Homo sapiens: one gene and its partner. The protein of the gene in region 1 purifies or fractionates together with the protein of each later gene. This does not show direct contact. Each region holds a gene or a part of one and is shown in the gene's direction. Other genes may lie near its edges.

Region 1 (3,500 bases):
TACCATATTTACTGAATTTACATTTCTACATAGACTTAACATTTTATGAGAACGTTAATCAGAAAACAATACATATGAAGGGTTTAAATATAATTAGTATAAATTGTGATATTGCAATGGCTGTATTCTGTTTTAGATACTAAACATCTTCTAGAAGGGTAATTTAATATATATAAACATGTTAAGTTTTTCACCTACCTTTCTGTTTTGAATTCTTGAACTGGATACCTGGCTTTGTTTTTCACATTGTTGCTGTATCTGAGGTGATGTTTAGCCTTCTAAGTTGAGTATCATAACCATCAATCTTTGGTTGTTCTAATTTACCAAGTAAACTATGTTCACTTCCTAATTCAATTTAATGAATACCTAGATTATGTTTTCCATGCATTTCTGGCCATTTGTTTATGTAATAAATCTGTTATATCAGAGTACCACTTTGGTTAATATCTGATATACAAAGGTCTGGAAACTGAAAGAAGGTCAACTGGTCCATCCCTATCTCTCCAGGTGAACCTTTATCTAAAAGGTACCTTAAATACAAATGCTGAATCCAATATTCACTATTTCTGTGAAAGAAAATGGATGCTATTTTGGTTGTCTTATAATTTTACAGTTCTTCGATTTAATTTTCTTGAAGGCAATGTGATATAGTGGAAAAGCTCTAAAGTAAGATTTAAGAGACTGGGCTGTCATGCTGGACTCTGCATATTATTTTCTCTTTCTGAACGGCAATTTTCAGTGTGTAAAGTAGGGGTAATAATAGCTACCTAACTTTTGTCAAAGTGTTTTGGAGCTCAAATTGCATAATAAATAGATAAGTACTATGAATGATAAAGATCTCAGACAGTGTAAGATAGAATTATCATAAGTATGGTGTTTATTTTTCTTAGCTAGATTATATAGTTGGTGGGAGTGATTTGGTTTATTTGTTTAAATTTGGTAAGGAAATTGGGATTTCACATTTTAGGTTGGAGCTATTGTTGAAACAAGGACATCTGATGGATCTTTTCAGGAAGCTATTATCAGCAAGTTGACAGATGCTAGTTGGTATACCGTGGGTAAGTAATTAAGTAATTTAACACAGATTTGATTTGGAGGTTGCATGTATCTGTGTTTTGTGGATACACTGAATCATTGTGTTGGTGGAGAAATATATATTATTTCCTGTCAGTTTACTGGATATAGCTGACTAAAATTCTAAGAATGCCCTGTAGGTAACAAAAATAATTATCTCTTACAGTAAGTTGGCCACTTTTGTCTATTTCATCCAAAAATGTACTTCTATTTTAGGTTACTTTGATGTTTCTTTTCAAGAAAGTTAGATCACATGATTGTGATCACTTTTTCTATAATTACAATTAAAATTGCATAGTTGCGATCGTTACTGTATTGCTACATATTTTATACAAGGGTAATGTAGATGTTGCCAGACAATTTACAGATTTAAAAAATCCTGACCATGGTAGATTCAAGAATAGGTGATTGTTAACTTAGTTTTTGATTTTTGATACAGTGTGGGTGCTCATATTAACAGCTTTCAAGGTCGGGCATGTTGGCTCATGCCTGTAATCCTAGCATTTTGGAAAGCTGAGGCGGGTGGATCACTTGAGGTCAGAAGTTCGAGACCAGCCTGGCCAACATGGTGAAACCCCGTCTCTACTGAAAATACACAAATTAGCCTGGTATTAGTGGTGCATGCCTGTAATCCCAGCTACTCTGGAGGCTGAGGCAGGAGAATCGCTTGAACCTGGGAGGCGGAGGTTGCAATGAGCCCAGATCATGCCACTGCACTCCAGCCTGGGCGACAGAGTGAGATTTGGTCTCAAAAAGAAAACAGCTTTTAAGAAAAATATAGATGCTCCTAATATGAATGCATGAATGCATTCTTAACATTCCATGCATAAGCTTATACTGGCTTTAGATAACTTTATTGTATTAATAGTGAGAAGCAACAAGTGTCATAATACTTGTAAGTTAAAACCTTAAAGTAGTACTTAAATAGTTGCTGTCATTATGTTGATGAGAATAGCATTAAGTAACATTTCCAAATCTCCTCTCAGTACTTTCAAACTGCACAATCCTGTGGATAACATCCAATCTATAGCATTGTTGGTTTTTATACTTATTTCTTGGTTTAAGTGGTATAATTATTTTGTGGTTTTCTTGTAGAAATAAAAGAATGACCATTTAGGTTTACTTTTAGTTTACTTGATTTGTTGCTTTGGGTAAAAATCATTCACATCCAGTTGATGCTCAGTGTTGTGAAGAACTATGCTTTGGTTAAAAATTTCTCTGTCTTACCCTGTACCTTCTATTAGTAGTACCAATTTGCTGTGTGTAAGTACTTTTTTCAAACCTCTTTGATGCTTCTTGGACTTACTAGAATTTAGTGTTGGTTCACAGTGGTGCTATTATTCTGAACTACATATTTTTAGGAAGCTTAGTTGTGGCTACTGATAGTTGTTAAATTTTAAAAACTAAGTGGCCAGATGCAGTGGCTCTAACCTGTAATCCCAGCACTTTAGGGGGGCGAGGTGGGCGGATCACCTGAGGTCAAGAGTTCAAGACCAGCCTGGCCAACATGGCGAAACCTTGTCTCTACTAAAAATACAAAAATTAGCTGGGTGTGGTGGTGGGCGTCTGTAATCCCAGCTACTCAGTAGGCTGAGGCAGGAGAATCGCTTGAATCTGGGAGGCGGAGGTTGCAGTAAGCCTAGATTGTGCCATTGCACTCCAGCCTGGGCAACAAGAGCAAAACTGCGTCTCAAAACAAATAAAAACTAAGCTTAATGTTAACTCTTAGAGATTAAGTAAATACATCTTTGCTTTATCAAACTAAGACCTGATAAAAATTACAGGTGTGTGTAGAATCACCGGAAAATATATGATGCATATTCAGATATTTATATTGCACCTTATATTTTAACTCACTATAAAGGTTGTACTCACTTTGAAGCTTTACTGATAAAATGCGCATGCTCTATAGAAGGATTACTTTTCAGGTTTTCTCATTTTGGGTTTCTTTATCCCAGAGTAGTTATTCAATTATGAATAGCAACCTTTGTCCTCTACATGAGTAGCGTTTTAGTGTTTCTAAAAACTAGTCACTGCTAAGCATTCTCTATGGTGATTTTCTGTGTTGGATAATTACAGAAGAAATTGTATAATTCTTGTTCTCAAAGAGCTTTAGAATCTTAATTGCATATAATTGAGGTATCAAGCATTAGTGGACATAAGAATCACTTGGTGCTTGCTTAGAAAAATGAGGATTTGAGGACCCCAAGCCTCTCCAATTAGTAGGCCTGGGGATGGCAGTACAAGAATGTTTTAATAAGCATGTCAGTGATTCTGATGCAGGTAGTTCACACTTATAAAAACAGGGAAAAACAGATTTATTTGGGAGAAAAATTCAAAATATTAAAGATTTTTGCACTTACGTGCATGAAGGAAATTCATAAAAAGATTTTGAAAGGCACTGTTCCATTCAGAAAACTCAAGAT
Region 2 (3,500 bases), on another chromosome or scaffold:
CTGTTTTGAGGGTGGAAGACGCTTTTTATGCAATTTGATCTGTCCTTGTGTACCAGTCTTGTCTTTTGCATAATAAGCAGTCAAATATTTGTTAGATGAATAAAAGAATGTGCAAATTTTAATATACTTTAAAATGTGCATATATATACACACACACACACTCATCCACAAAAACTGCACTGTTTTAGCATATTTAGAGTAATTGCTGGTAATTCAGAGCTGTAAAATTCATTACATTTGTGTTATTTCCTACGATCATAAACTTTATCAGCAGTTTATGTTCCATTACATCCCAAAGTAGAGGCTATACATATATGCTTGTAGAATCAGTTCTACTTTATTTGTGCTAATAGAAGTGAGGAAAGGTATTTAAAATTCAAATTGTTAATTTCCATATGAAATAAACTGTATGAACTAAACCCTCAGAAATTTAGATATGGAATATGCTTGACCTTGGATTGTGCTCAACTGATGTTTATTGGATGAGCATCCACATAATTTATGGTAAGCAGCATGGAGCTAAAGTTCACCTTTGCTTATTTAGCAAATCCCTTCTAAATTGATAGGAATAAACTTTATGAAAAACAGTCCTTCACAGGAAACTATTTAGAAAAGCAGGCTTAAGAATGACTTTTAGAAGATACATTTACGGTGTAACAATTGTTGTTTTAGTTAGAAGTCATTCTCCTCGTAAGAGACCAGATCCAAGTTGCTGTACATGTTTTCATATAGTTTTTAAGATGGTTCATAAATTTTTACTCTGTGTTTTACATACATTATGTTGATTCAAACCTAGTCGGGTTAAGTTTCTGAAACTTACTGAAGTATATTTGGAATGCAATTTAGAACATGCATCTGCTTTTGATATTCCACCCTGTGGCTCAGCACCAGTTATGGCAAAGTAGGACCTAATTAGACAGTAAAGGATAGGAAGCCTGGAATGAGCCACCCTAGAGATAATCTTTTGATGGTGATGGATAAGTATTTATTATGTACGATTATAAGCCAATTCTTTTCTGAGAAGTAACAGTAATTAATTTGTTTCTTATTTTCTAATCATAAGTTTTCCAGTTTACAAATGGAAGTTTTATTACAGTTGGGTTTTGGTTTTTTTTTTTTTAAACCTGGATAGCCAGATTTACCAAGATCACAATAGTTCAGTTTTATTCATTGTAGCTTTTACACAGAAATAAGTCATAGCCTAAATGTAATTTATTATTTGGCAAAGTGTTTAAAAACACCCTGAATCGTTGCAGTAAATGTCTAAAAAGTTTTATTCTGGAAATAACTTTGTATAATTTTCTTTGGGGTATAAATATATGTTCTTCAGTTTACCTGGAACATCTGTGACCCTAGTTAAAATGATTTCTTACACTAATTCTTGGTCTTTTTCTTCCTTTGTATTTTTTGTGACCTGATCACCTTCTTGCTTAGCAAATGGAAATACTAGCAGTAAGTGACCTGTCTTGATTTATAGACTACTCACCCTTGCCAGACAAACTGGTTTTCATCTGCCATTTGTCCATTTGTGACCCAGCAATGTTTTCTCGTGGACTACTTTACAAGTAGTATGTGCTTCAGTTTTGCAAAGCCCTAATCCATGAAATGTTGGTTCTTTTAAAATAGTGAGATGTTAAAATACATAAAATTAGCAGTCACCTTTTTCTTAAACATATCTCCTCTTAAATTTCTTAATTTAAAAAATCAAAGTGCACAACTTTTTTTTTTTTTTTTGAGATGGAGTCTTGCTCTGTTGCCCAGGCTTGGAGGGCAGTGGCATGATCTCGGCTCACTGCAACCTCTGCCTCCCAGGTTCAAGCGATTCTCCTGCCTCAGCTTCCCCAGTAGCTGGGATTACATACACCCACCACCATGCCCAGCTAATTATTTTTTGTATTTTTAGTAGAGACGGGGTTTCACCACATTGGCCAGGCTGGTTTCAAACTCCTGAGCTCAAGTGATCTGCCCACCTCGGCCTCCCAAAGTGCTAGGATTACAGGTGTGAGCCACCGTGCTCGGCCCACGTTGTTAATTTCATAGTTTCATTTCAATGAGATTACCAAGTGGTTTTCTTTAGAAAAATGACCTCACTTTAAAAGACAGCTTTTCTTACTTTTTAGGTAAGAGGTTATCCGGTTTCACTTTGCTTTATCAAGCATTTGTTGATAAATGCAGTGAGATCTACATCTCAATGAGGGCAAAAGTCTTTGCATTTGTAGATTATTTTAATTATGAATTTAAAGTTTTAAATTCTAATGAATCCTTTTTAAAGTATCCTATTAATTGCCTGCTGAAACAGTCTATTTGTAGAATGTGAAAATGTGCTTAACATTAAAACTGAATTATGTAACCAGCAGTGATATTTGTTTTTATTTTAATCTTAGTCTTTAAAGCATATTTCACGTGCCTTTCATCAGCTTCATACCATATTAACTTCCTTACTGCAGAAAAATAAACGACAAGACAATTTTAACTATAAATTTCCATTGGAAATATGCTGTCTAGAAAATAACACCTAAATTTAATGTAATGTTATTTATTTCTAGGAATTGGAGCTCTGCCGAAGATTATACAAATTGCATTTTCAATTGCTGCTTCTGTTCCAGGCCTACTGTAAACTTATCAACCAAGTAAATACGATAAAAAATGAAGCAGAGGTAAATATTCAGTTGTATTAGGCATCAGTAACTGATTCTAAAAAAATTTTAAAATAAAATCTATTACTTGTTAAAATAGCTTAAGTCAAAAGTCACTTAGAGTGAGTCTTTTTTCTTTTAGTTAAGGAATAATTTGTTTTTTAATGATGTGCTATGTCAGGACCTATGAGTAAATAAGACAGCAGATATCCAGCAGTTGTAAAAGGTTCAAGACCTTAAAGGTTTCCATAGTAGACACAGATCATCTATAATCAAAAGTCAAGTAAAAGCCAGGGATGGTGGCACATACCTATAGTCCTAGTTACTCGAGAGTCTGAGCTGGGATGATGACTTGAGCCCAGGAGTTAGAAGCTGTAGTGAGCTGTGATTGCAGCACTGCACTCCAGCATAGGTGACAGAGCAAGACCCTGTCTCAGAAAATCAAAATAGTCAAACAAAGCACATCAGTTCAATAAAGACATAAAACTGTATCATCAACCCCCCTCCCTCAACATGTTGTTCGTATTTCTATAGCTTTTTTTTTTTTTTTTTTTTTTTGAGGCAGAGTCTCCTTCTTTTGCCCAGGCTGCGGTGCAATGGCATGATCTCAACTCACTGCAACTTCCACCTCCTGGGTTCAAGCAGTTCTCCTGCCTCAGCCTCCCAAGCAGCTGGGACTACCAGTGTGCACCACCACACCCAGCTAACCTTTTTGTATTTTTAGTAGAGACGGGGTTTCACCATGTTGGCCAGGCTGGTCTCAAACTCCTGACCTCAGGTGACCCACTGCCTTGGCCTGCCAAAGTGCTGGGATTACAGGCATAAGCCACCGTGCCCAGCCCACATTGTTACAGTTTTATTAGT

Evidence for each region. Proteins that work in one complex are often made in the same cells at the same time.
Region 2: the proteins of ARID4A (region 1) and FRYL purify together in Homo sapiens (affinity purification with mass spectrometry; one large-scale study listed by BioGRID and IntAct). This does not show direct contact.

The regions. Positions count from the first base shown.
Region 1 is NC_000014.9:58,305,055-58,308,554, forward strand, and holds part of ARID4A (AT-rich interactive domain-containing protein 4A), read left to right. Parts: intron 1-967; coding exon 968-1,058; intron 1,059-3,500.
Region 2 is NC_000004.12:48,500,780-48,504,279, reverse strand, and holds part of FRYL (protein furry homolog-like), read left to right. Parts: intron 1-1,434; coding exon 1,435-1,452; intron 1,453-2,546; coding exon 2,547-2,657; intron 2,658-3,500. UniProt on the Homo sapiens protein: Plays a key role in maintaining the integrity of polarized cell extensions during morphogenesis, regulates the actin cytoskeleton and plays a key role in patterning sensory neuron dendritic fields by promoting avoidance between homologous dendrites as well as by limiting dendritic branching.